Regions from separate parts of the Homo sapiens genome. Here all the other regions are reported to be linked to region 1. The links are microRNA targets in miRTarBase. Many come from high-throughput screens and were not tested one by one. Region 1 holds a microRNA gene; each other region holds the end of a gene's coding sequence.
What was found. Region 1 holds the annotated microRNA hsa-miR-376a-5p (GUAGAUUCUCCUUCUAUGAGUA, at 4,922-4,943, shown strand). A microRNA usually pairs through its seed, bases 2 to 8, with sites in the 3' UTR of a target mRNA and lowers its output. Matches are read on the target gene's strand: a 7mer-m8 pairs with bases 2 to 8, a 7mer-A1 pairs with bases 2 to 7 and ends in A, and an 8mer does both.

Region 1 (7,121 bases):
GGTCACTGTTGCCTCCATCACCTCAGGTACGTCAGAGGAGGGCCTCAAGGAAGCCTTGCATCTCTGATGGTACGTATCCTTGTGTGTTAACCCTTGCCGTCTGTTTCCTTTGCAGGAGGACACCCTGGGCTCTGGAAGAGAGACAGCACCCCAGAAGCCGGCCAGGAATGGTTGGAGGGAGGCTATTGGTGATGTGTTCACTCTGTGTGTGGCAGATACCCCACAGTGGACCTCCTAAAGCACTGAGTGCCTCCTTGAAGGACTTGCTGTACGTGGTGTGAAGTTCAGGAACACAGTGTGGGTGTCTGTCAGCCCCTCGCAGAGGGTATGTGCGCAGATGGTGGAACAGCTGGCAAGTGTTTTCCTTTATTTGTTTTTTCTTTTGAGAATTGAGACTTTATTGAATGAATCACCATATAATCCTGTTTCCTAAGGTAAATCTATACATAAAAAGTTAGGTCCTACACCACCAATTTCTTGTTAAGAAATGGACCAAGAAATATGAACAAAACCATGTGTAACACAGTTTTCAGAGTTTTAGAAGAATGGCAAAATATACACTAGCTTGTCTCTTGATTGCCAAAGCTTAAACTCTAAAGAATAGGGAGGACATAGGTATACACTGGAAAAAAAAATGGCAAATACGTGAGGAGGATGGGAATGTTTGTGACTACATGGGAGGCAAACTGATTTTTTTTTTTTTGAGACGGAGTCTCACACTGTTGCCCAGGCTGGAGTGCAGTGGCGCAATCTCGACTCACTGCAAGCTCCGCCTCCCGGGTTCATCCCATTCTCCTGCCTCAGCCTCCTGAGTAGGTGGGACTACAGGTGCCCGCCACCACACCCGGCTAATTTTTTGTATTTTTAGTAGAGATGGGGTTTCACTGTGTTAGCCAGGATGGTCTTGCTCTCCTGACCTTGTGATCTGCCCGCCTCAGCCTCCGAAAGTGCTGGGATTGCAGGCACCCACCACCGTGCCTGGCTAATTTTTGTATTTTTAGTAGAGATGGGGTTTTGCCATGTTGGCCAGGCTGGTTTCGAACTCCTGACCTCAGGTGATCCGTCCACCTCGGCTTCCCAAAGTGCTGGGATTACAGGCGTGAGCCACTGCATCTGGCCAGCAACTTTTTGCATCTAAAAGGTGGATGTTCCTTCTATGCTTACAGGATTTATGGTTAATCACAGAGGAAGTACCATCAGGGAAGCCCATTCCAGGAGGAAGTGGGGAGGGGGCAGGTGAAAAAAGCGGAAGAAACCAATTAGGGGCATATGCAATTAAGGACAAGTCCTGAGCAGGGCTGCTGCAGCCACATCCCACAGCAGGGCCTGGGGAGTCAGCTGCACCTAGAGCTGAGGGCCCGGGGCAGACACGGATGTGTCAGTTCACTAGCCTGGGTACCCTAGCCAGGCCCCTCAGGGAGGGATGCCAGCCCCTTGGAAGAGACAGTGTGTGGGCTGACCTTTCTCCCAACACAGGGGAAGAAGAGTTCCTTGGCTGGTTACTACACCTACCCCAGCTCTTCCAGGCTGCCGCTGTTTCAGTTACCAAAAGAAGACCCCTAAGCCCAGCCAGCAGCTATTCCTCAATCACATGTCCCCCTCCTTCAGGACCATCCTGGCAAGACCCACTCCTTGGGACACGAATGATGTCTGGCCACACAGAATACATGTTTATGACTCAGACCGTCCAATTCCCTAACCAGCTATGTCCCACTGGTTCTCAACAGGGCCTCGTGGAGGCAGCCCCGACCTGGGGGAAGTGGCCTTGCTCTGGCTGGTATGTGCAGAATGCTTGTCCATGTAGACGTGCTTTATTTATGCCAAATCGTGCTTGGGGGCTTCGGGGGATCAGACTTGCTTCCTCAACAAGCTGTGACTGCAGGGGAGGGACTGGCTAATAGCAGACAATGGGTGTTATCTGGTCCACTCACTGATCCATTCGCCAGTAGGAGGAATGTCTAACTCTGCATGTGTGAGAAGTAGTGGTTTTCAAGTACAAGACTTTTTTGAACCAGTTCCAGCTTTAGAGAAGTGAGATTGGTGTAGGTTGTCCGTGTGTGGAATGTGAATGGAGGGTGGGACATGGAGCATACGCTTTGCTTGTGGAAAATGTCTCCTGGTCCTCAGAACTGAAGCCGTTTTAGCGGCACTTCCTGGAGTGATGGCACCCTTGCGAGATAGGGTTTGAGTCTGGGATTATTGGTCCTTCATTTTTTGCTATGGGAGGCATGTGTTGTCGCTATTTTAGTAAGCCTCTGCATCCACTCCACCCCAAAAATGATTTTTCTGGAAGCTGTGATCATTGTTTTTGGAGGGTGGTATTAGTGGTGGTGGTGGTGGTGGTGGTGGTGGTGGTGATGGTGGTGGTGGTGATGGTGGTGATGGTGGTATTGGTGGTGGTGGTGGTGGTGGTGGTACTGATGGTGGTGGTGGTGGTGGTGGTGGTGGTGGTGGTGGTGGTGGTGGTACTGATGGTGGTGGTGGTGGTGGTGTTGGTGGTGGTGGTGTTGGTGGTGTTGGTGGTGGTGGTTGTGATGGTGGTGGTACTGGTGGTGTTGGTGGTGGTGGTGTTGGTGGTGGTGGTGTTGGTGGTGGTGGTTGTGATGGTGGTGGTGGTGGTGGTATTGGTGGTATTGGTGGTGGTGGTGGTGGTGGTGGTACTGATGGTGGTGGTGGTGTTGGTGGTGGTGGTGTTGGTGGTGGTGGTGGTGGTGGTGGTGGTACTGGTGGTGGTGGTGGTGGTGGTGTTGGTGGTGGTGGTGTTGGTGGTGTTGGTGGTGGTGGTGGTGGTGGTGGTGGAGGGTGGTGGTGGTAGGGGCTGGTGAGCATCATGTTTTGCTACCTCTCTCAGTTGTATTTAAAGAGACATTGTTTTTGACCTGTTTGCCTATTCCTCAGTCTGTCACACCAACATGACCAGTCCTGCCGATTGAAACTTTCTGGACACAAGCTTCAGTCTCTGGAAGATTCTTGGGTGTCCTTCTCCCTCCAAGGTATGTGAAGGATGCTCCAGCCCACAGTTACATGACATTGGTCATTAGGTGCCTTGGGAGGGCTTCATGGAGGCGATGTGACTTTAGGAACCTGACAGGCTTATTTTCTTTTTGTTTTTGATATTTTTCGAATTCAAAGCATAGAATCCCTACTTTGCCTGCTTTACTTGTGGCAAATTTTTGATGTACATTCACTTTTTTTTTTTTTTTTTTTCAGAATTAAATGCTACTTTGGAAACGCTCTTGACCATGAAGCCTCCATTAGGGAAGAGACATTAGGGTTACCCCCACCCAGACGAGTGACAGCAGGGCAGACCCCAAACTTACGTTTGCCTGCATAGGAGTTCCATCTCTGGATGTGAAGAGGCCAGGGGTGGGCCCTGCGCTTCCCACGTGGGACTCGCAAAGTGCTCACCTGCTTCTGTTACCTTCTGTCTTTCATGAATCATGTTTGCGTTTGTGCTCTCCAGGGCTGTTCCCACTTTTCCCATCTAAAAGGTGGATGTTCCTTCTATGCTTACAGGATTTATGGTGAATCATAGAGGAAAATCCGCATTTTCAGTATCTAAGGCTGCTTTTAAAACATTTCTGAACATTTCTGAGAGGAAGGTTAGCTCCCTCCCCCATGCGGAGAGTGATGGAAGGTGAATCCCAGAACCTAAGCTCTTGTTAGCAAGGTCTGTCCTGGGACATGCGTCCTCCGCAGGGCCCATGTCACTGCCGCTAGCCCGGGAGGCCCCTGCCGACTGCACCTATCCTGTGCTGTCTTTAATTTTGATAGATTGTGCTTAGGTTCATGCTTTCCAGGACTCAATCCTTCTTTGGTATTTAAAAGGTGGATATTCCTTCTATGTTTATGTTATTTATGGTTAAACATAGAGGAAATTCCACGTTTTCAGTATCAAATGCTGCTTGGAAACATTCCTGGACTGAAACCACCATCAGGGAAGAGACAATAAAGTCCCCCCCCCCACTCCAGGGTAAGTGGAAAGTCGGTGGACCTCAGAACATGTGCTGAATTCGTGCCATATGTCTGCGGACCACCCACCCGCCTTGAGGAGACCCCTCTCGCAAGCTGCCCGCTCGGCCAAGCGGCTGGGCTCCGTCGTCATTTTCTCCATGAGGCCGAATGCTCTCCTCTGTGCTATGTTACTTTTGTGTTTGATGGATTGTACTTAGGTTCGTGCTTTCCGGGATGAAACCTTCTTTGGTATTTAAAAGGTAGATTTTCCTTCTATGGTTACGTGTTTGATGGTTAATCATAGAGGAAAATCCACGTTTTCAGTATCAAATGCTGCCTTGGGATCATGGCTGGACTGAAGCCACCATCAGGGACGTGAGGTGGGGCTGAGCCCTCCAGGGTAAGTGGAAAGATGGTGGGCCGCAGAACATGTGCTGAGTTCGTGCCATATGTCTGCTGACCATCACCTTTAGAAGCCCCCTTTCGCTGAGGAGCCAGCTTGGTGCACAGGCTGTGGTGTGTTGTCACAGCTATGCTACGGGACTGAAAACGGTTGCTTTACTGTCTTGCTTCCATTTTCCATGAACTGTGTTCAGATTTGTCCTTTCCAGAGCCCAGTCCTTCTTTGGTATTTAAAACGTGGATATTCCTTCTATGTTTACGTGATTCCTGGTTAATCATAGAGGAAAATCCATGTTTTCAGTATCAAATGCTGCTTTGGAAATGTTTCTGGAAGAGACCGTAGGGCCTGAGTAGGTGCAAAGATGGTAGGCCGCACGTCGTATCTGAATGAACGGGGTATGCCCGAGAACCATCTCGAGACGCCAACTTGGTGAAGATTAAATTGTGGGTCTCGTGGTGCCAGTTCTTCCCTGGAAGCTCGTCTGCCTCATGTGACTTTCTTTTCTGATGACTCAAGCACAGGTGCACGCTTTCCTGGATGGAATCCTTCTTTGGTATTTAAAAGGTAGATTCTCCTTCTATGAGTACATTATTTATGATTAATCATAGAGGAAAATCCACGTTTTCAGTATCAAATGCTGCTTTGAAAACCTCGGAGGACGTGAAGTCGCCATGGAAGAGGAGATGTTATCTGTACCCCTCCTGGGTACAGGACGGACAGACACAGAATTGTACTTTGTATGAAATACGCCGTCAGCTTCTCTGCTGTTTGCTCACTGCCCTTGGTGCACACATAATGTGTTGTTACAAGGCTGTGTTCTCAGTATTGCCTCATTGACCTTGAATGAAGTTTGTTCTCTGTATGTTTACCATGATTGCAATGCATTTTCTGGAATGAACCTCTTTTACTGTGACTAGTTGTACCTTAGAGAATACCTGAGTGGGCTGTCAATTTCAGGAAGGGGCACTGCTTCAGGGGCTATGGAAGGAATAGATGTGTGATTCACCCACGGGCCTGCACTTCACACCTCGGTGTGCTGCTCTCACCATGCAGATCCCATCTGTGTCTCTAAGGCTTGCTCCTGGAGCTGGTGGCAACTTAGTCACAGAGGAAATGGCCTTCCTGTCACTGCCATCATTTGCTACTTGAAGAGAGGTAATCCTTCACGCATTTGCTTTACTTGCAATGATTATACAAGGGCAGACTCTCTCTGGGGAGCAAATCCTGCCTGGGAAGCCTTCTTGGGAACAAGGCTGACTCCAGCAACCTGTTAGATGGCCAGGATAGCCCTGGGGTGTGGATGGTTGACCACAGGGCATGTGCCTCTGTCTTGCTGTTTGTGACCTGGTTCTCTGACCCTCCTCATCTCATGCTTCCTTCCAAGAACTTTCTGGAAGAGATGCTGGCTTTGGAGATGATATAGGGTTTTCTCTTCAGACCACCTGTTCTGCCTAGCAAAAAGGGCCTACCTTGGCCGGGCACGGTGGCTCACGCTTGTAACCCCAGCCCTTTGGGAGGCTGAGACGGTGGATGGCTTAAGCCCAGGAGTTCGAAACTAGCGTGGGCAACTTGGCGAAACCCCATCTCTGCAAAAAATACAAAAATTAGCTGGGTGTCATGGTGTGCGCCTGTGGTCCCAGTACTTAGGAGGTTGAGGCTGGAGGATCACTTGAGCCCGGGAGTTGGGAGGTTGTAGTGAGCCAAGATTGTGCCACTGCACTTCAGCCTGGCTGACAGAGACCCCTGTCTCAACACAATAGGTTAAAAAAAAAAGAAAAGAACAAAGGGCCTCCCTTGATGGGCCCTACTTATCACAAAGCATCCATGGGCTGCTACTCCGGCAGGTCTGCCCAGCATGATGCCAGCCTCTGAGAAGAGGTCTCGTGGTCAGTGCATCTCCCAGATACATGAAAGAATGACCGTCAGCAAAGTCAATGTCTAATGTAGATGTGGGTCATCTGGTCTACCCACTCTCCATACCTAGCCCATCCTTGGAGTGACTTTTGGACCTCACTGTCCACTTGAGGGAAGGCCAGTCCACAGGAAGGAGGCCCCAGAGCACCCAGTGTGGCTACAGGACTTGCTGCTGGGACCTCTAAGCCCCACTGCTCTCTTAGTCCATTGGTGTCCTTTAGGGATTCTTGCCAATGGAAAGACCCTTGGATTCCTGGTGTTAGCATGTGTTTATTCAGAGAGAGTTGGCCCATGAGAATCTCATTTTCCTTTGACGAATCTTGCCCTAGATGAATACTTCTGAGTAACAACTAACTGCTCAGATGGCTTTCTGAATACAATGCCAAATTCAGGAGAAGGGACACTTGTCATAGTGCTGCTTTGTGATTTGCAAACGGAGTGCGTTGGATTTCTGTTTCTCTTTTTTCTTTAATGATGCATGTGACTGCATCTTCTAACCTCCCTTAGCCAGTGTTCACCAGGAGGGCTTCCTGGAGGCAGTGGCTTTGGGCAGAGGCAGAGGTTCTTCTCCCAGGGTGTTTTTGCAGGCCCTAAAGGGATTTCAGCCATTTTACATTTACATTATTTCAAATGGTACAGGATTGCCTGTCTTTTGGTAACCAATCCTGTCGTGAAGAGATGCTGGGAAGTAAAGTCAACTGTATGGCAGGCCCCAGCTCCAGGGCCAGCCAGATGAGGCTTGTCACCTGGCCCCTCCCCCTTGGTCTCAGGCCTCGCAGGAGGAGATGTCCACTCCGGCGAAGACCCGGCATAGTCCTCACCTGCTCTTTGAGCCACTCTTTGGTACTTG
Region 2 (7,121 bases), not on the chromosome of region 1:
ACATATGCACATCCAGGTTGCTTAAATTCACCAATTGCTCATTGGAAACCACATCTCAACTCGGTCATATTGCTTTTAGTGGTTTGTTTCTCTGTAGAGAAGTTCTCTGTTCACAACTGCAGGCAACCAAAAGTTCCCAAATCATTTAAAACAGTCCTATCTGTGCACTGGCAGAGGTGCTAGATCTTGTAAGAATATCTCTACCCAATAAAGTTATTACTTTTATACATGGAACATTATGAGCTTGTGTCTCCCTTTGTAAGCCGTTTTATACTTTCTGCACTTTTGTGCTTTTATTGAGTATAAAAATAGGTCTCCTTTAAAATTCTGTTTATTTTAAGTTCACTAAAAAACTACTTGTTTGTGAAATTCTCTTATAAACTCACTGCATCCACATGGAACAGATAAAACTAATTAGGCAGCTAATGGATATAGGTAGTGTTAAAAAAGTACAATGAAAAAAACGAAGGTATGGTAGGAATCAAGGAAAAAAAAAAAAAAAAAAGCCAGCAGTAAGTAAAATGGAAGAGAGCTCAGTTTCATAAATTTTGTTTCATCTTTATTGTGGTTGAAAATGTAGGCTCCACAGGAAGGGGCAAAAACCAAAACTGAACAAAAAAATCCTGAGTTGTTATCAAAGAGCAGAATTTTCCAGATCATTAAATAAAAGGGGATGTTGTAGAATAAATCAAATAGAATGAACAGTGAGAAATAACCAATAATAAAAATAAGCCAAATCTCAGAAAAGTATGTCAAGAGTTACATGGAGACGGTTACTTTGGGAACTTGTAAATCCCTGTGTTAGGATAGGTAAGGCTCATTCTTGTTATCCTCACAGGCTTAGGCTATACAAAGGGTATTTGAAACTGACATTCCTAATGGAAATTTTACAAAATTTGGCCCTTAGAATAACTGAGAAATATCCTGAAAAAATCTTCCCTGAAACTGTAATAAAGAAAGTTTCTTATCTACTGATAAAATTGACAACTCAGTAAACTATTTTCGCTGGTCTTCCTACATAAGAAAAAAGCACAAATATATTTGCCTCAGAAATCTGTTAAAAGCAGGGAACCACACAGTAAAAGAGTATAAAGATTCTATAAATGGGAGAGTCCAAGAAAACCTCTCTCAAAGTGTCCACAAGGATACATATGCCCATTAGAAGAAAAGTAAGAATATACATATTATTAATCATATCAGAGAATAAAAAAGTTAAGATTGATATAATATATTTATATTGAATGACTACTTTAAAATAGAGCAACTTATTTGCCTTATTTCTCAAATTCCTTGGGCAAAAGTCACTTAAATTCTGAAGTAAAAAACAAATGTAAATTTCTTGTACTGTACTAATATCAGATGATTATGATTTCAAGTCCCAGAAGAGAAAAATAAGTCTTGTCTTTTGAGTCTTTTTCTTTCATGAAAAAAGCAACTAAATCACCCTGACTGCTACATTTATGCATATTTAAATCACTTCCCCTTGATTAACATTAAAAAGAAACATCTCTGCCCAAAAGAGTTGTAATGATTTCTTTCTCTAGCTAAAGGATAATCATTCTACAAATAATTTGCCCAGTGTCTGTAGTCATTCATAACATACACAATATTTGCAAAGCACAGTTTAAGTACACTGCCTTTTATTAGCATTTTTTTTTTTTTTAAATAAAAGGGATGCGTATCAGAGTGTAAGAACTGGAAATTACTTCCACAGTTTAAAGAATTAATAAGAGAATGCTGGTTCAATTTCTTAAAGATGGAAAGCTTACCAAAATGCCATCAGAGTCTGTGAACTACTTATAATAAACAGCAGGATCCCCACTGGCTAGGCTGCCGTGCACACAGCACCCACCCGCCACCCCCAGGTTACCATTTTAAGATATTCTGTCAATGCTTAGTTAAAAATAAGACTTACTTAAGAGACCAACAAAAAAAAATCAATTAAACTTTTATTGAAGACTATCCAGTGGCAAGAATACCATGTGTATTATACTATGTTTTAGACACTCAATAAAGAATTCATTAAGATGATTCTCACAACGCACTCATCAAAACAGCCTTAAATATTGTTAAAAAGCGCATTGAAGCGCCTGTCCTGAGTTCTAACAGGTTTTAAATTTAGATTGCCAAACAATTACTTTTATTTTTGTATCAAGTTAGGCCACATGGCTTTAAAAAAAAAAAATCTTGACTATCTCTTCCCATTCTGAAGCCAAATTATTACTTTACTAATTTACTTAAAGTTTCCACCTCACCACAGAAAATGTCCAAGATTCATCTATGATTAAAACAGAAAAGACATGCCAAGTTTTCAGGCTTTCAAAATACATAGATCAGCCTATCAATGGGTTTACGTTGCCAACAAGTTTCGGAACTGCAGCAGAGGGCTGCCACATAAAATCACCAGCACGGAGCACGTGTCAATTGTAAACCGCTGGTTCAATTATCCGTGGCTAAAATAAATGTACCACCAATGGCTGCATTAGTCTACATGTTGAGGGGGTGTGGGGTAAGGTAAACAACTCCAGAAATCCAGTTCTATATTGAGAACCTGGTTAACGCCATCAGCCCCTTCTTTTCCCAAATGTACTACTGAAATCTGATGGTTTATCGAAAGGAAAAAGCCACAGAAAAGAAACCTGTCCATCTGCAGCAAAAGCTTGCTGGCTTCGCATCCCAGGGGTGGGGGCTGGGGAGGAGGCTCGCCCAGAGCGGGAGGCTGGGGGGCGGGTGAGAGGCCCGAGTTCTCAGTCGGGGGGCCGGGGGAGGGGTGGTGGTAAGATCGAGTAAGGCAAAAGCAAGCGGGAGGGGAGGCGGGAAGGGCGCCGGGGCCCCTCTGGCCTAGCAGCTGCAGTTACTGTGCGGACGCTTCCATTCGGTCTCGCCAAATCTCAGTAAAAATGGAAGGCCAAACCTCGGTCAATCATCTCAGTAGGTGAAAGAGTCGTGGTGATTTTGCAGTGAGTTTCAATCAGCCACTGAAAACCTCCTCCGCTGCGGGCGCCGCAGCTCGGGAGGCTGAACTCCGGGGCTGGCACGCTGGGCCCCGAGCGGCCTCCCAGCCTCCCTCCTCCCAGACCCAGCAGAAAAGAGGCGGCGGATGCTCGGAAGGGGGGCGGGAGCCCGGGGCGCGCGTGCCCGGCCGCGATCGCCTGCTCGGGCCTGCCGCGAGGGCTCGGGGACACAGGCCGGTCAGGAAAAATGGTGGGGAGCGAGGGGGTGTGGACAGGCAAACGGGGTTCAGCGAGCGGGGAGCGCCAGCGGGATGGGTCGCGCCCGCGCCGCCGCCGGAGCCCCCAGGAGGCTCCCGGAGAACAATCAAGATGCGGATCCACCTTCGTTGCGGCGGCCCCGGGGAGCTGATTCCGGGGCAGCCCCTGAGCCGGCGCGCGGGGAGGGCGTGGTGAGGGCCCGGGGTGCGCGGGTGCGGCAGCCGCCTGCTCCCCGGGTTTGCTTTCTTCCTCTCACCCCGCAGCCCCGAGGCTTCCCTCCCCGGCCCGCGGGCCCGGGAAGCCAGCGCTGGTGTCTCCGCGCGCCTCAAGGGCCCGCGGCGGGGCGCGCCCAGGAGCACGCGGTGGCGAGGCAAGAAGAGCCAGGCACGGGGACCCGGAGCGTCAGGGCTCTGCCTTGCGCGTCCCGGACTACCGCCCGGGTGCCCTCTGCCACCCCCTGCTCCCCACGCCCTCACCAGTGGTTCGGCCCTCCCAGGCACCCCGGAGACCGCGACTCGGATCGCACAGAGGCCATGCCATGTTCCTCGGGGTGCCCTCGGCCGGCCTGCCGCGTCTTCCCCCGACTCCCGCCTCCCTCCCGCTCGTAGCCTGGGTCCCGCCGCGCCCCGCGCCCCCTGCGGCCCCGCACCGTCCTCCTTCCCTCCGACAGCTCCACGGCCCCGGGGGACAGAAGGAAACAGACACCGACCACTTCTCTCCTTTCCTCTTCCCCTTCCCCCTTCACCGCTAGAGGTCAAACACTGCGGCGGCGTTCTCCGCCAACAACCACCTCTGAGCACACGCGAAGATGCAGCGTTAAAAATAAAGAACAGAAAAAATTCAAATCTGGAAACGGCTGTCCCCACCCTTTGAGAGGCGGGGATAGAAGTGCCCCGAGCGCTCGCTGCCAAAGGCGGCTGTCACCGCGAGGCTCAGCGGGGACGCGGCCCGCCGCAGAGAACACACAAGCCCCAGCGAGCAGGACCCCGACCAAGGGAGCTGGCAACCCAGGCCCCTCCATCCGCCCCTCCCCGGCCAGCTCCCGAGCCTCCGCGCAGCCCGCCCGCCAGGATGGGTGGGGAGAAGAGGCAGGGAGTGGAGGAGGAGGTGAGAAAGGAAATGGGGAGCTGGAGATGGAAAGGGAGGGCAGAGAGAAAGAACACCCTTCCCCTGTCTTTCACAACTAGCGGAAGAGGAAAAAGAAATCAGCCTGCTAATTGAACACTTTTCAGCCTAACCCCCTAAATGTAGAATTCTCTCCTGCCACCTCCCCTCATCCGCGCACACAACAGCCTCACCACCGAATGCTCTGCGACAACAGGACCTCCAGTTTGACTTCCATAGAGACTATTGGCGATGCGAGTTTCTATCAGTTCCAGCTGATTTATTAAAATTGTCAAGATACAGACTTCCAGCACAAAAAAAAAAAAAAAAAAACAGGCAATGATGTCGACAGTGCATTGAGTCTGCTTTGCCACCATTTGCTACAAAATATGCAGATGGTCTGTACTTTATTTAGATTATATTGCACAAAATGAGAAACTTTTTAAACTATGTGCCTTTTTTTTTTCTTTTTTGCTAAAAATCGAGAATCCAGTTTCAAACCTTCCATCTGGGGCCCCATCCACATCACAGCGTATGAGATACATAAAGTCCTACTATAGTACAGTACATATACAATCTTTAAACTAAGATAACAGCTCTGAGGTCTATATCACCATTTTCAATAAATCTTTACCTACAAATATTGAACAAATCTCTACTATAGCTGTACAAAAAAAAGTTTGCTTTTTTTTTTTAAACCACAAGGCCTTTAGATGCAAGGATTATTTTAAAATTTTAATCCTTTTTAAACCAGGACATAACGTACCAACATACTTGCATGCTAAAAAACAGAGGAAAAAAAAGAAATCAAAAGGGAAGAAGTGCCTGAAAGTCTTACTGAAAAAACACAGCAAGAATGTTCCCTTTTCACTGTACAAAAATACGCCTGAAAATATATTAATTTTTAAAAAAGACTGAGGTCTGTTATGTATCAAAAATGTTTCAATACCTTTTGTACTGAGGTCTAGGCTGTCTGGTATTCAATCAAGGAGGTATAAGGGAACAAGTTACAAAAAAAAAGTTGGCAAGTAGAAATCACATTTGTAAAACCATAAACAATTTGATCTGAAAAGTAAACTCTGATCTTAAGTCAGTTCACAGTTTTTTTTTTTGTAAGCGTTTGTACAGTCTGCATTTTTTCAAGCTCCCTGCAGTTTTGTTAAGAATCGGATGCATAGAAGACATCAGTTTTCTCCCTCCAAAAAAAAAAAAAAAAAAAAAAAAAAAAAAAATTAAATTAACAAAAGTTGCAATGGTCCCTTTTTTTGTTAAAAAAAAATCACCAGTTCTTTAAGTTCTCTTAAGAAAAAAAAATATCTCCACCAACTCCCTAGAGTAACAGTTGTGCTGCCAAAAGGGTCCTCTGCAGACGTCTTCCAGACTTCAAAGACCGACAAGCTTCAAACAGCGCCTTCCGGAGCGGGTCCTACCTCCCCTCCCCCGCCCCGCCCCCTCTGCCTTTGTTGCAATCACGAATTTCAGGAAAAAGAAATAGTAATTACAAAAACACATTTTTTGGGAAAATAATCACAACTCCAGACTAGGTATGCAACTACCTTGAGACACGATAAAGGAAGGGAGGGGGGACAAAAAAAGGACAGGAAAAATGTTTAAAAACTACTCATTTCACTTTAACTCCACCAAAATTTTCATCATGTTTTCCAATTTCTTTGCGTCACGACATCTTATCAATATCATCAGCATCTTCTTCTCTCCCCTCCACCCTACCACCGCCACCATCAACACCACCATCATCATCATCATTATCATCATCATCATCACCACTACAACTTCCTCCCAAGGAACCCAGCTCTGCACCCTCCGAGAGAAAGAGCGAGCAGCGGGCGCCTTTCAATATGTGAACACCAGGTCGGAGAAGTTCGCCTCCAGCCAGTCCCCCGCGATCATCTCGCTCAGCTCCGGCGTGCAGTAGTCGGGGAACTCGAAGTGGGAGCCCAGGCTGCCCTCGCTGAACGAATCCAAATCCTTATCCACCAGCGACAGGGACAGGTTCCCGGCCGCCGCGCCGCCCCCCAGCTGCTGCTCGCTGGCGCTGTGCGCGCTTTGAGAGAAATTCAAGCTCAGGTCGAACATCAGGTCGTCGGCGTCCTCGCCGCTGCTGCCGCTGCTGCTGCCGCTGCTGCTGGACGAGGAGGTGGACACCGAGCGCGAGGACGCGGGCGACAGCGCGGGCTGCGCGAGCGGCGGCGGGTGCTGCTTGGTGATGTTCTTGAAGCTGTAGTAGAGGCGGCTGCCGCCCCCGGCGCCCGAGGTCGCGCCGGCCCGCACCTCGTCGTAGAGGCTCGCTCCCTCGGGGGACTCCGCCGAGCTGCTCAGCGTAGGGCTGGCGGGCACTTTGGCGACGTTGTAGCGTCTCAGCAGCTGCGACGGCTGCTGCCCCGGCGGCTGCAGGAGCTGCTGGTGCGGTGGTTCCTCGTCCTCCTCGTCCGGCTCCTGTTTGATCTGCAGCTGCAGCTCGTCGTCGTCGTCGTCGTCGTCGTCGTCCTCATCCAGAAACACGCACTTGACCGTCTTGCCCGCGCCGCCGCCGCCCGAGCCGCTCACGCGCAGGCTGCCCAGCACGTAGTCGTCGCCCGCGCCCCCGTAGTCCCCGGACTGGGCCGCCTTGCCCGCGCCCGCCTTGGCGCCCGCGGCCGCGGGGGCCTTGAGCTTGCCGCATTTCTTGCTGGAGCCCTTGGAGGTCTTGGCACCGCCCGCGCCTCCGCCCGCGCTCCCGCCGCCGCCGCCGGCCGCGCTCTTCTCTGGGCTCTGGCTGGCGCTGGGCTTGGCCGAGGGGTCCATTTT
Region 3 (7,121 bases), not on the chromosome of region 1:
TCTCCTGACCTCGTGATCTGCCCGCCTCAGCCTCCCAAAGTGCTGGGACTACAGGCGTGAGCCACCGCGCCCGGCCGTATGTACTATACTTTTATACAACTGACAGCAGAGTATGTTTGTATACACCAGCATCACCACAAACACATAATGCACTGGGCTAGGATGTTATAATGGCTACGATGTCTCTAGGTAATAGGAATTTTTCAGCTCCTTTATAATCTTTTGAGACTGCGATCCTATATGCAGTCGATTGTTGACCAAAACGAGGCAACATTATGCAATGCATGACTAATGAATATGGATAATGTAGGAGTTTTGGAGGGCTGAAGTGAAACAAATTTTGTAGCTCATACACATTGTGGCTTATCTGCTGCTCCTTTGGGATGAGGCTGCAGTTGGGCCTGCAGTTGTTCCACTGTCCCCAAATCCTCCTTCAGCTTCTCAGACTCATGGGCCAGCTATATTTTGCTCCATGATAAAGAGTCCTGGCTTTGGAAGGACATCCATGCCACCAAGGTCAGAAGCAGCGAGATCTGACCAGAGTGTCAGTCCATGTTTGTGGTTCTAGCTTGTGCTTGTGGCTAGTTCCAGCTTATTCCTAGTGCCACCATCCCTCCCTCAATCATTCACCTTTGCTTTCCAACTGCCTAAAATGAACTTCAACCTCCAGCATCAGATGCAAAGATGAAGCCTTACAAACTGCTTAACTAGGTCTCACCATTGTTGATGTCATATCTGTTAAAAAGTATATCTTCTAGTGGTTCTGCTTCTCTGAATCCTGATTGATATATTAATTTTGTGGAAAGATAAAAATGTTCTTAATCTACTTGATGCTTGTCTTCCAAAATTTGGTATTTAAATGAACAAAATTTTTTTTTTTTTTGAGACGGAGTCTCGCTCTGTCTCCCATGCTGGAGTGCAGTGGCGCGATCTCGGTTCACTGCAAGCTCCGCCTCCCGGGTTCACGCCATTCTCCTGCCTCAGCCTCTCTAGTAGCTGGGACTACAGGCGCCCACCACCACGCCCGGCTAATTTTTTGTATTTTTAGTAGAGACCGGGTTTCACCGTGTTAGTCAGGATGGTCTCGATCTCCTGACCTCGTGATCTGCCTGCCTTGGCCTCCCAAAGTGCTGGTATTACAGGCCTCTGAGCCATCGCGCCCGGCCTAAATGAACACATTTTAACTTTGCCAATTTAGTGAATAAAAAAGCAGTTTTTACATTTAACATAACGTCAAAATTACATTTAGTATATTTGCAGAAAGCACAACCATTTTTTTTTTTTTTTGAGACAGTCTGTCGCTTTGCCTGGAGTGCAGTGGTGCAATCTTGGGTCACTGCAACCTCCGCTTCCCGGGCTCAAGCAATCCTCCCACCGCAACCTCCCAGGTAGCTGGGAGTACAAGTCCGTGCCACCATGCCTGGCTAATTTTCGTATTTTTTTTTTTTTTTAAGACACAGGGTTTTACAATGTTGTCCAGGCTGGTCTTGAATTCTTGGGCTCAAGCAATCTGCCTGCCTGGGCCTTCCAAAATGCTGGGATTACAGGTGTGAGGTACCATGCCCGTCAGAAAATAACTTTTTTGAGATGGAGTTTCGCTCTGTCGCCCAGGCTGGAGGGCAGTGGCGCGATATTGGCTCACTGCAAGCTCCGCCTCCTGGGTTCATGCCATTCTCCTGCCTCAGTCTCCCCAGTGCTGGGACTACAGGCGCCTGAGACCACTCCCGGCTAATTTTTTTGTGTTTTTAGTAGAGACGGGGTTTCACTGTGTTAGCCAGGATGGTCTCAATCTCCCGACCTCGTGATCTGCCGGCCTCGGCCTCCCAAAGTGCTGGGATTACAGGCGTGAGCCACCGCGCCCTGCTAGAAAGTAATTTTTTAAATTACATTTTGGGATAACTGAACGTGAATGATATTAAACATCATTTGGAACATTCTATTTTTTGTGACCCTAGACCTTCAATTTCTCATGCGCAAACCATATTTTGGCAAACTAGCTTTTTATTTTTATTTATTTTTTGAGACAGAATCTCGCTCTGTCACCCAGGCTGGAGTGCAGTGGAGTGGGGTGGCGTGATCTTGGCTCACTGCAACTTCCGCCTCCTGAGTGCAAGCGATTCTCCTGCCTCAGCCTGCCAAGTAGCCGGGATTACAGGTATGCACCACCATACCCGGCTAATTTTGTATTTTTAGTAGAGATGGTTTCACCATGTTGGCCAGGATGATCTCGAACTCCTTACCTCAAGGGATCCACCCACCTCAGCCTCCCAAAGTGCTGGGATTACAGGCGTGAGCCACCGCACCCAGCCCTAACTAGCTTTTTTTTTAAAAAAGACATCATGGTACTAATTTTAGTGACAGTGCATTGCAAAAATAACCTTTAATAAATTGAGAAATCTGAGAATGATGTGAATGTGTCACTTCCATTATTTTTGTAAGAACATTTTATTGGTCACCTAGAAATATTAGTCATATCAGACTGTAAATTGTCTTAAGACTGCTAAACATCGGCCGGGCACGGTGGCTCATGCCTGTAATCCCAGCACTTTGGGAGGCGGATCACGAGGTCAGGAGACAGAGACCATCCTGGTCAACATGGTGAAACCCCGTCTCGCGTAAAATTACAAAAATTAGCTGGGCATGGTAGTGCATGCCTGTAGTCCCAGCTACTCGGGAGGCTGAGGCAGGAGAGTTGCTTGAACCCGGGAGGCGGAGGTTTCAGTGAGCCAAGATTGCATCACTGCCCTCCAGCCTGGCGACGACCATGACAGAACGAAACTCCGTCACACACACACACACACACACACACACACACACACACACACACACACGATTGCTAACCATCTTCTATGATAAACCTTAAGTATATTCTAAAGAATATTACCACTGATAAAAGAATTGTCATGGTACTCACCTAAGATATTTTGCTAAGAATGTCTAAATAAATTTCACATATACTTTGACATAAAATGAAAATGGGAATAGAAACAAAACTGAGTAAAACAGGTTGAAATTCAAAATATCTACCACTCCAAAAATTGTCTCATTGAGAAATTTATAAAGGTACAATTACTACTTCTGCTAATAAAACCTTAATAGACATTCTGAATGCTTTTAAAAGTATGAGTAACAATTCCATTACACCCATATTTAATTAAAACACAACCACATGTACTTGATTAGAAAAAATAGAAGCACAGGGATGAAATGCATTAGCTGGTTTTGAGGCAGACTGAGGGAAAAGAAATCTCAATTCCATTTGAAAAGATGTGTATCAATCTACAAACAGCATGCATGGATCCAACCCTTCATCTAGTGCCCAACTGAGTGATAATTTTGCTAGAGATAAATTTGATGTATTAATACTGTAATCTGCATGACATAAGCTGTATAATGCACACTCCAGAACCTGACTCAGTTTTAAGATGTAGCTCCAAGGTTAACAGTAATTTTTATCCTCTCCTTCCTTTTCCCAAGTGCCTATTTGCATTTTTCTGTCTTCCATGTATAGAATTGCCACGAGGAAACTTACCTAAGATCCATCTTCATGAAAACAGTTAAGGGCAACACAGCCTTTTCAATAAAAGGTATGCAATTTATTTTGTGCTTTTAACATTACCCCCTACACAAATTATTAGTTACATAACTTTTAAGGGCCCCATAATCAAATAGCAGCTATCATTTAATGTCCCAGGCACCAAAGGCTACATTTTAAAAATTACTGTTTTACAGATACAGATGGGGTCTTGCTATTACCCAACCTGGAGCGCAGTGGCATGATCATAGTTCACTGCAGCCCCAACTCCTTGGGTTCAAAGTGATCCTCCTGCCTCAACCTCCACAGTAGCTAGAACTACAGGTGTGCACCACCACACCTGGCTATTTATTTTTTTGTAGACAGTGTCTTGCTATGTTGCCTAGGCTGGTCCTGGGCTCAAGCACTCCTGCCTTGGCCTCCCAAAGTGTTGGGATTACAGGCATGAGCCATAGTGCCCAGCCAACAACTTTTATATGCACTGGGAAGCCAAAAAAATTCATGAACTGCTTTATTGTAGTCTGGAACTAAACCCACAATACCTCCGAGGTATGTCTGTACTTTGCAAGGTAGCAATCACTTCCATTTTACCCGTAGGAAACTGAAGGTAAGGAACACAGTTATCTCCAGCTCTATGAAATAAAGACCAAATGCATGACTGGACTCTTATCTTTCCATTTAAAAAAGCTCATTGTATAGCTACCACCTCTCGTTCACTCCTAAAGGATTTAAGCAAATAAATAAGGACAAAACATTTTTCTAACAAAAACCACTTTTATTTTTAAATCAATTTACTATCAAATACACAACAGAACTCGGTGTGGAGGCAGTGTTTGATTTCAACTGGTTATCTGTTAAAAGGCTTGTGTCCCAGTGCAACACTACCTTTGTGCAGAAAATGTTCACTGAAAATAAATATCCTAAGAATGGATAATCTTCACTGTAGCATCTTGTCAGTGGCACTACTTTTAAAAAAATGATTCCCTTTAGAAAAGCTAGTATATTTGTATTCAGAGATTACAAGTGAGGGAACACACTGTGAATATTAGGTTTACCATATGTGAAATTTGTTTTTGACTTACAAAAATGCCCATGTCACATGGTTCACCTTTTATCTACTAAAGTTTAAAACAAATGTCATTTGTGTTGAACTTTGTTTTTTAAAAATGCAGTGATTAGGACCATTATTAGAACTTCTTTTACTCACTATAGACAATTCTTTTTGATAAAATCTTTAAAAAGTTACTTACTACAAACTGTAAAAACAATGCTGTTTTTCTATATGGCATTTCAGTTTTTAGGTTAAAAAAAACAAAACAAAACCCTATTTATACTCAAAACTTGGATAAAAGCTACAATTCCAAGTCTCATTTTCCCTTAACCCCAGCCACCCAAACACTACTCATTTCATAAATGAATACTATTTAGTACTGTACAGTAGATACATATTGACAGCTTCTATACTACTCCAGAAAGGCAAATATCTGTATTTCACCGAAAATATAAATTTGCTAGATATAGGTGGGATTTGTTTATACTAAAGTTCATTGCTTTATCCAACCCCATTCCCACACAAAAAATAAGCAATAAAATGATACTAAGCTAAGAAAAGGACTATTTTGGATAGAAATTAAATCATTTTTGACAATTTTGATGGCAATTATCACTACAGTGATAGACTTCCTCTTTTTACTATACTGAAATATGTGGACAGAAAGGGAAAGAATTTGTAAAATGAATGAGGTAAATGTCATACATTCAGTAGCGTAAATAAATACAAATACGGTTTTACAGGAACATGAACATAAGTTTAAGGGTTTTATTATCAAAGTCTTGTAAAACAATTTCAGAAACTGTACATCAACATGGCACAGACTGTAGCCTACTTTTGTTTCTACTGCACAAAAGTGAAGCTTGAAACTTCTGTAACTAAGAAAACAGTTGCCTACTTTGCATATATAACATGAAATCACCGTGTGCATAAGATTACTACTGCAGTAACACAAATTTATTGGTTTTATACAACTTGAGATCAAATAAAGGTACATTATCAAGTAGATTTGTCTTATTTTAAAAGCGTATGAAGGTCAATTTAAAATGCACTACCCCTTTTTTCCAACACGGAGCTTAAAACAAATTAATGAAAGAGTGGAAAATTCAAAATAAGGGCAAGAGATAAGGTTTTTTTCTTTTTTTCCTTTAAGATAGACTCAGGATAGGTAGATAGCTTTCACTGATGTAGATGTGGAATAAATTATTACTTCAGGAAAAAAATTCCCAAACATCTTATGAAAAAGTATACAACTCTACTTCAAAATATGCTATTTACTCACTGCCAAAGACAGTTTTATTTGAAATCTTGTTTCTGTATTTAAACCCTAATTAGCCACCAAAAAAGGTTAGTGCATAATAACCTTTCAAAGTTAAACAAAAGCCACAAAAATTTTGCCACAAGGCTTAAAGGATTATCTATTTCAAATGCTCATTTCCAGATGTAACTATAAGAATGTTAATTTGTCATGTCAACAAACAAGACCATAAGTAGATCCATCATGTTGGAGGATTTTAATGACATTTAGGATATTCTTGCCACAATAACATGCAATCAGTGCATTTCCTACATGGCTCTATTACGGCAATGAATCAAATTATAGAAATACTATAAGTGAACTTACTTAATAAAGGATATCATACGACATAAACAATCCATGCCTGCTGTAGATGCATGCAGCTTTTCATTTTTGTTATGAAGCAGCACCAGAATAGTAAAACTGCTTGGTTACTCAATCAGATTTCACCATGACAAGAATTGGTTACCTCGTACCATTTTCTAAAAGCTTTTTGATGTAAATAACTAATATGAGTAACAGGAGCTTTATAACCATTTATAACTCAGAGCTGTATACATCTAGGTTTGAGATGAACAAATACAGCATTAAGAAATCACACAAAGGAATGACACTGATGCAGGTATACAGTTGGACTCCCTCAGAGGCAATATTCAGTCACTCATATCCATGTCTTCTTCATGATGATCATCCCCATTCACTTTGGATTCTCTTAGTGAATCACCAGTTCCCTTTTCCACAGAACATTCCTTTGTTTTAGGGGAACCTGTTTCTATTGGTTTCTTCTCTTCTTTTTTCTCTTTCTCACTGTCATACCCCTGTTCCTCTTCATCATAATCCCGTGTAACCTGCTTTGCCAAGGAGAATAATAAAAGTAAACTTCTCCAAAGAAAAATAACTTCTGAAAGTACCAACATCACCCCAAATATAAAAATAAATCAATTTGTAAACATACTTTTACATCTTTATCACTCTCTGATTTTCTTTCCCGGTCCTTTTCCTTATCTTTACTCTTCTTCTTCTTGCTTGTTGATCGTTCTCTTTCATCCCTACTTCTTTCTTTGTCTTTATCTTTCTTCTTCTCCTTTTTATGTCTAGAATGACAGTAAAATGTACAGCAACAGGTTTAACTTGTTTAGATGATGAGCCTGACTCAATTTCACAGGATATAAGTAGTACAGCAAAGATCCAACTTCAAAACCTTGGAGAAGTAACACAGGCTACAAAACTAACTTGTT
Region 4 (7,121 bases), not on the chromosome of region 1:
GAGTTAATATTTGTGTACAACATAAGGTGCGGCCCAACCTCACTCTTTTGCATGTGGATATCCAGGTTTCCCAGCACCATTTGTTGAAGAGACTGTTAGATTTTTTTAAATGCCCTGAAATGATTAGTTTGTAAGATTTTCTATTTAAAGGATTGTTACACATTGAAATTTAGCTTTAATGTTTTCTTAGTTATTGATATGGATAGAATTTCAAGTTTTGCAGGAATTATGCAGAATATTTTAATTAATAGTAAGATGTAATTTTTAAGTGGTCATTTAGGTCTTGTTTGTTTATGGAGTTGTTTTTTTGTTTGTTTCTTTGAGACGGAGTCTCACTCTTGTCACTCAGGCTGGAGTGCAGTGGCGCAATCTCAGCTTACTGCAGCCTCTGCCTCCCAGGTTCAAGCGATGCCCATGGCTCAGCCTTCCAAGTAGCTGGGACTACAGGCATGTGCCGCCACACCCCGCTAATTTTTGTGTTTATAGTAGAGAGGGGTTTCATCATGTTGGCCAGGCTGATCTTGGACTCCTGACCTCAGGTGATCTCCCTGCCTTGGCCCCCGAAAGTGCTGGGATTACAGGCGTGAGCCGCCACGCCTGGCCAGATTAAAATTTTAATATAAGGTAATTTCCAAGTAATTCTGTATATCTTTTCCAATGCTTAATATATACTAAAATGTTGGTTGCTGTGAGCTATTTCTTTAAAAAAGAAAAAAAAAAGGTAATCCAAAATAAATATGTGGAAATCATTTGCATAATTTTTCCCGTCCTCTTTTGCTTGTAGGGAAGCAGCTCGAGAGTGTCGTAGAAAGAAGAAAGAATATGTGAAATGTTTAGAAAACAGAGTGGCAGTGCTTGAAAATCAAAACAAGACATTGATTGAGGAGCTAAAAGCACTTAAGGACCTTTACTGCCACAAATCAGATTAATTTGGGATTTAAATTTTCACCTGTTAAGGTGGAAAATGGACTGGCTTGGCCACAACCTGAAAGACAAAATAAACATTTTATTTTCTAAACATTTCTTTTTTTCTATGCGCAAAACTGCCTGAAAGCAACTACAGAATTTCATTCATTTGTGCTTTTGCATTAAACTGTGAATGTTCCAACACCTGCCTCCACTTCTCCCCTCAAGAAATTTTCAACGCCAGGAATCATGAAGAGACTTCTGCTTTTCAACCCCCACCCTCCTCAAGAAGTAATAATTTGTTTACTTGTAAATTGATGGGAGAAATGAGGAAAAGAAAATCTTTTTAAAAATGATTTCAAGGTTTGTGCTGAGCTCCTTGATTGCCTTAGGGACAGAATTACCCCAGCCTCTTGAGCTGAAGTAATGTGTGGGCCGCATGCATAAAGTAAGTAAGGTGCAATGAAGAAGTGTTGATTGCCAAATTGACATGTTGTCACATTCTCATTGTGAATTATGTAAAGTTGTTAAGAGACATACCCTCTAAAAAAGAACTTTAGCATGGTATTGAAGGAATTAGAAATGAATTTGGAGTGCTTTTTATGTATGTTGTCTTCTTCAATACTGAAAATTTGTCCTTGGTTCTTAAAAGCATTCTGTACTAATACAGCTCTTCCATAGGGCAGTTGTTGCTTCTTAATTCAGTTCTGTATGTGTTCAACATTTTTGAATACATTAAAAGAAGTAACCAACTGAACGACAAAGCATGGTATTTGAATTTTAAATTAAAGCAAAGTAAATAAAAGTACAAAGCATATTTTAGTTAGTACTAAATTCTTAGTAAAATGCTGATCAGTAAACCAATCCCTTGAGTTATATAACAAGATTTTTAAATAAATGTTATTGTCCTCACCTTCAAAAATATTTATATTGTCACTCATTTACGTAAAAAGATATTTCTAATTTACTGTTGCCCATTGCACTTACATACCACCACCAAGAAAGCCTTCAAGATGTCAAATAAAGCAAAGTGATATATATTTGTTTATGAAATGTTACATGTAGAAAAATACTGATTTTAAATATTTTCCATATTAACAATTTAACAGAGAATCTCTAGTGAATTTTTTAAATGAAAGAAGTTGTAAGGATATAAAAAGTACAGTGTTAGATGTGCACAAGGAAAGTTATTTTCAGACATATTTGAATGACTGCTGTACTGCAATATTTGGATTGTCATTCTTACAAAACATTTTTTTGTTCTCTTGTAAAAAGAGTAGTTATTAGTTCTGCTTTAGCTTTCCAATATGCTGTATAGCCTTTGTCATTTTATAATTTTAATTCCTGATTAAAACAGTCTGTATTTGTGTATATCATACATTGTTTTCAATACCACTTTTAATTGTTACTCATTTTATTCACTAAGCTCGATAAATCTAACAGTTACTCTTAAAAAAAAAAAAAAAAGACTAAGGTGGATTTTAAAAATTGGAAACTGACATAATGTTAGGTTATAATTTCTCATTTGGAGCCGGGCGCAGTGGCTCACGCCTGTAATCCCAGCACTTTGGGAGGCCAAGGTGGGTGGATCACCTGTGGTCAAGAGTTCAAGACCAGCCTGGCCATCATGGTGAAACCCCATCTCTACTAAAAATACAAAAATTAGCCAGGCGTGGTGGCTGGCGCCTGTAATCCCAGCTACTCAGGAGGTTGAGGCAGCAGAATTGCTTGAACCCAGGAGGCAGAGGGTTGCAGTGAGCCGAGATAGCACCATTGCACTCCAGCCTGGGCGACTCCATCTCAAAAAATAAAAATAAAAAAAATGTCTCATTTGGGAAGGAAATTCCTTTTAAAAAAGAGTTGAGACACTTAGAAAACTAATGTTTTATATTTAGTCAAGAGTTATTTAAGAAAGTCAAGCTTGTTTAACAACAAAATATGAAGATTTAAGTGTTAATTGCTGGATCCATTTTAAAATAAGATTTTAATTAACATTTGTAAATGGTATATTTTCGTTTGTAACAAACCATTGTCTTTTTTCAAGGATGAACAGAGTTTATGAAGGAGCATCATTCTAAGAATTAAGTGATGTAGTCTTTATGTTTGGACAGTTCACCAGATTCTCAAGAAGGCTTTCAAACAACTATAAAGTTTGATGTTTGTCCTGCTGAGCTAATGGGGAAAGTTATAGCATAAAAATTGTGTAACCGCATAGATATGTCATTTTTAAAAACTGGTTTAACAGAAATCAAGCAAAGTCACAAATATGTTCACAAGTTGGAATTATTTATTGAGTCAAAATGTCGAATCGAACATTTTGAATGAAGTAAGTGTTATAAATGAAAAATTGCCTGATGTTTAGCAGTTTGTATTCTCTAAAGCTTTTTTTCAAAAGTTCAGGCTTTCTACTTACTGGGAAGTTGGTGGTCCTCTTAGTCCCTGATAAATCAAGGCAATCACATTCATGTGAGCTGGATGAATTTATAAGTTATAAAGACCTTATCCTTCATACCTTGAGGATGATTGCACTGGTTTTGAAGTCAGTTGCTTAATGATGAGGTGAGAAATGTATCCTGTTGCTAAATCTGTCTTAGACCCTTGGTGAAACTTGAAGATTTCAGTTTATAAAGATAAAATCAAGCATCTTTTGTGCAGTTTTCTTTTTTTAATGCAAGAATGGTGGGGAGGTTTGTTTGTAAGCATGAAACTTTGAGAATCTTTATTAAGAAAATGACATAATTTTTAAAAACCTTGTAGCCAAGAACATATGTGGCCACATTACCAGTAATAAATGTTTTTCTCTTTATATTGGCCAAAAGGGAATAAAAATGTCATCATAGGAATTTGTACATATGCTACTGATTTGCCTAGAAAATAGCAAGTTTGATATTGCTCACTTTGCAAATATAGGGCCATGTGGCACTTTTATCTATAGGACAGATTAATAAAAATGAAGTGGGGAGGGGTTTATTTTTGATATATTACTCTTATGAGTTTTCAAGCTTTGATAATGTTTAACTGAAAAGTGGCTTAGAAAGGGCTAGATCCAATGTGTTCATTATTAAATAATTGCTATCAGATACAATTTTAAGTTCATTCTTTTTCAAACTCAAGTACCATATTGGCAACCATAATATTGTCATAGGTGCTCTCTTCATTTAGATATTCTTGGGGGGGGTGGCATTTGTATAATATATGTGTACATATATATATATATATATATATATACATACAGTATATAATCTAAAGCTCTGAGAGCTCTTAAGTCAGGAATGCTGAGTATTATAGTATATTGAGGTCAGATGAAATTTTACATTTTTGTGTGTTCTGTTGCATTCCTTCTGGTAGTTTCTATGACTGCATTACTCCAGCACTCATGATTGATTTTATCTTCTAATTTTCTTCCAAGTATTTTATTTTTTATTAGTTTTCTTTGGCTTGATACTTTTAAATATGTTACTAGTCACTTGAAAGCCTCTCCCCCAAAAGTATTTGGTTTGTATGCTTTGTCTGTGGCAGCTATAACAGTGGTAAGAACATTTTGAAGATAGCTTTTTAAAGGAACCACTGATTTTTTCAAAAATCATCCTGGGGGAGGAATTTTGGCATTTCATTTGAGCAGGGATTTTGTCAGAAAATGTGTTTTGATGGTAGGTCAGCAGCAGTGCTAGTCTCTGAAAGCACAATACCAGTCAGGCAGCCTATCCCATCAGATGTCATCTGGCTGAAGTTTATCTCTGTCTCTCAGGATAAATCCCTGTAGGACAAATCCCTACTATCATTTCTACCTTTTGGGGTGACATGTGGAATCATACAAAGGCTTAGGAAGAAATACGTTTGTTTAAACCAGGATGCTTTACTTACTTGAAGTGACTTCAATCTAGATTTCTTTTAATATTTAACAAATTTTTAATTCTATGATCAGCCACAGTCAGCTATTACCATAAATTGGTCTCTGTTTATTTTGAAGATCACGGCTGCTTCATTTTGCAGGATTAAGTAGGGCTAATGTATCTTAAAGTTAAGATCTTGAATTAAAGTGAGTTTTAGAAATAGTGTTACATACCTTTTCAGTTGTTTTCAAGAGGCTTTATTTTTGTTGCCTTTGTAGCCCTGAAAGCTGTTGGTATATTTTTTCCCTCATGGACCCAATAGAAAAGTTGTATATTTATTTGGATTATATTTACATTCTGTCCTTTGTAAATGTTTGGTGTAACTTGCACTTTTTTAAATGACCCAGTTTGGGTATTAGCAACTTAAGAAATTCCCTCATCAAGTAATTCTCAACTTTTTAGTCTTTCTCCTCTCTTCAAATCATGTGACTTTTTAAATGGAAGTTTTTCATTGATTAAAATATTTTAGCACCTAAAAGCTAGCCTTAAAAACAGCTGTAAAAGAAAAACATCAGGAAATTAGATATGACTAGCCCAGTTAATTAAAAGACGGGCTCAAACCTTGTTTTATTCTTTTTCATCTTGGATGAAGATTGAAGGGAAAATAACTCAAGTGCATAATATTTATTTTCAATTTTTAATGAGACTTTATCCTCATCACAACATTAATACTGTACATAGTATGCCAAAATATCCATTAATTTGTCTAGAATAGTACAAGACTTTTTAAAGCAATTGTCCTCACAGAGACCACATGTAATATACTGAAATATGTTCATTTTTAATGGCTTTGTTAACATCAAAGAAATGCTGCCTAAATTTGATTTCAGATGAGGAAGGAGAAAGTAAAGTGTGCATAGTAAGGCTGTAGGTGAAGAGTTGTGAGATAAATAGTTCACTCAGTTGTACAAAGCACAACTAGAACTTTTTGTTGGGAGGCTTACATACATCTTGAATATTCTTAATGTAATAATGTTGACTATTAAGTTGGCTACACAGTCACTGTATGTACTAGGAACTGGTTTCCTTGACATTCTAGAATCAATGGCTAGGAGAGGCATTAATCTTTGAGGGGCTGAACATATCATGAAGCTGAGTCAGTATGGAAAATTTTCAAATAAACAGGGTGCTGAAGTTCCATCTGTCTCATCTGCTTATGATAAGTTCTTATTGATTAGTGAATGTAGCTTAAGCCTTTGTATGTGTCCTCAGGGGGCAGACCGACTTTAAGAGGGACCAGATAACGTTTGAATGGAGGGATTATATTTCAGGTGTTTTAGCTTGAAATTTATTTTTTAAAAAAAGAAAAATTTAAAAAATATATAAATAAAATAGAACAAAGCCGGTGATGCAAGTTGATATTATAAACAGGCAGTTTTAGCACAGAAAGAAAATACTGACCTGTCTGCATTCTGGTACGGTGGGTGCAGGTCCCAGCTGGGTATGACATGATACATTTTTAATTATTCTCACCAGCAAGTAAAAGGAAAATGAACAATCTTTTGGAATTGTCTTTGAAAAGGATCAAAGAGTAGGAAATTCACATTTGACCTAACATTACTTGCCTATAGAAGTATGGCATTTCCAAGCTTTTGTCTGAGGAGCATCTCAGAGAAGTGAGAGTAAATCTGAGTTAGCTTAAAAATTGGTAGGGAGGAAGAAAATCTCTGCAAATAATGATTTTATGTTTGTTGGCCAAGTGAAATGATCTATCATTGTGTTTGGGAGGTTTTATTTTCTTATGTTTTTAAAATTGGTAAATGCTTTATAGATGTATTTTTATCCAAGTGCCACTCCAATTTGTGTATGTAATAAAATTATTTATATTAAAAGTGGGAAATAATTGTCAACATTTTTTTTGAGTATAGATTTATTAGGGGTGGCAAAGAAGAGTGCTAGTTAGCAGTTTTCCATGTAAAGTTGTCCTTGACTGATTTGTCCACATGTCAGTTGTAACTCCCCCACTCCCTGCAAAAGGAATTATTTCTAACCCAGATGTATCACTTGAAACTTTTTAGAAGCAAAATAATCAGGGAAGTTCCTAGAAAGGTGTTTGGCTTTTTGGTTTTTGAGGGTTGGGGTAAAGAAGACTTCCCCCACAACTGTCAGCACAAAACAGGGTATTGATTTTTAACTCTGATGTTTCTATTGGAGTTGAATACTAAATAAATAACTATAATGAGGGAAATACATTTCTAATAAAATTCCCTACATTCTAGAAACATCCCTGTTTTAATTTTTTTATCTAAATCTTTTTGTGCTTTATGTGTAAAGAAAAAAATGTACTGAGTTACAATGCATTTTATTAACACTATGTACATA

Region 2: miRTarBase lists SOX11 as a target of hsa-miR-376a-5p. Seed matches in the 3' UTR shown: 7mer-A1 at 4,728-4,734 and 7mer-A1 at 2,119-2,125.
Region 3: the mRNA of SRSF11 is a reported target of hsa-miR-376a-5p. The part of its 3' UTR that is shown has no 7-base or 8-base seed match.
Region 4: miRTarBase lists CREB1 as a target of hsa-miR-376a-5p. Seed matches in the 3' UTR shown: 7mer-A1 at 2,340-2,346 and 7mer-A1 at 4,147-4,153.

The regions. Positions count from the first base shown.
Region 1 is chr14:101,035,867-101,042,987 of GRCh38, forward strand. It overlaps MIR376A1 (microRNA 376a-1), which reads left to right and starts at 4,916; the gene lies at 4,916-4,983. It overlaps MIR376C (microRNA 376c), which reads left to right and starts at 3,824; the gene lies at 3,824-3,889. It overlaps MIR376A2 (microRNA 376a-2), which reads left to right and starts at 4,203; the gene lies at 4,203-4,282. It overlaps MIR654 (microRNA 654), which reads left to right and starts at 4,353; the gene lies at 4,353-4,433. It also overlaps MIR376B, MIR300 and MIR1185-1.
Region 2 is chr2:5,693,094-5,700,214 of GRCh38, reverse strand. It overlaps SOX11 (SRY-box transcription factor 11), which reads right to left. Exons shown (of 1, transcript NM_003108.4): 1 at 1-7,121. The coding sequence ends at 6,168. Among named protein-coding and RNA genes, the nearest start is that of SOX11, 4.3 kb to the right of the region's middle. RefSeq lists silencers at 3,059-3,228, 3,519-3,608.
Region 3 is chr1:70,250,221-70,257,341 of GRCh38, reverse strand. SRSF11 (serine and arginine rich splicing factor 11) reads right to left here. Exons shown (of 12, transcript NM_001350605.2): 11 at 6,839-6,977; 12 at 4,290-6,734. The coding sequence ends at 6,537. Among named protein-coding and RNA genes, the nearest start is that of SRSF11, 32 kb to the right of the region's middle. RefSeq lists a silencer at 3,219-3,419.
Region 4 is chr2:207,596,130-207,603,250 of GRCh38, forward strand. CREB1 (cAMP responsive element binding protein 1) reads left to right here. Exons shown (of 8, transcript NM_004379.5): 8 at 785-7,121. The coding sequence ends at 929. It also overlaps a transcript of METTL21A not described here. Among named protein-coding and RNA genes, the nearest start is that of METTL21A, 26 kb to the right of the region's middle.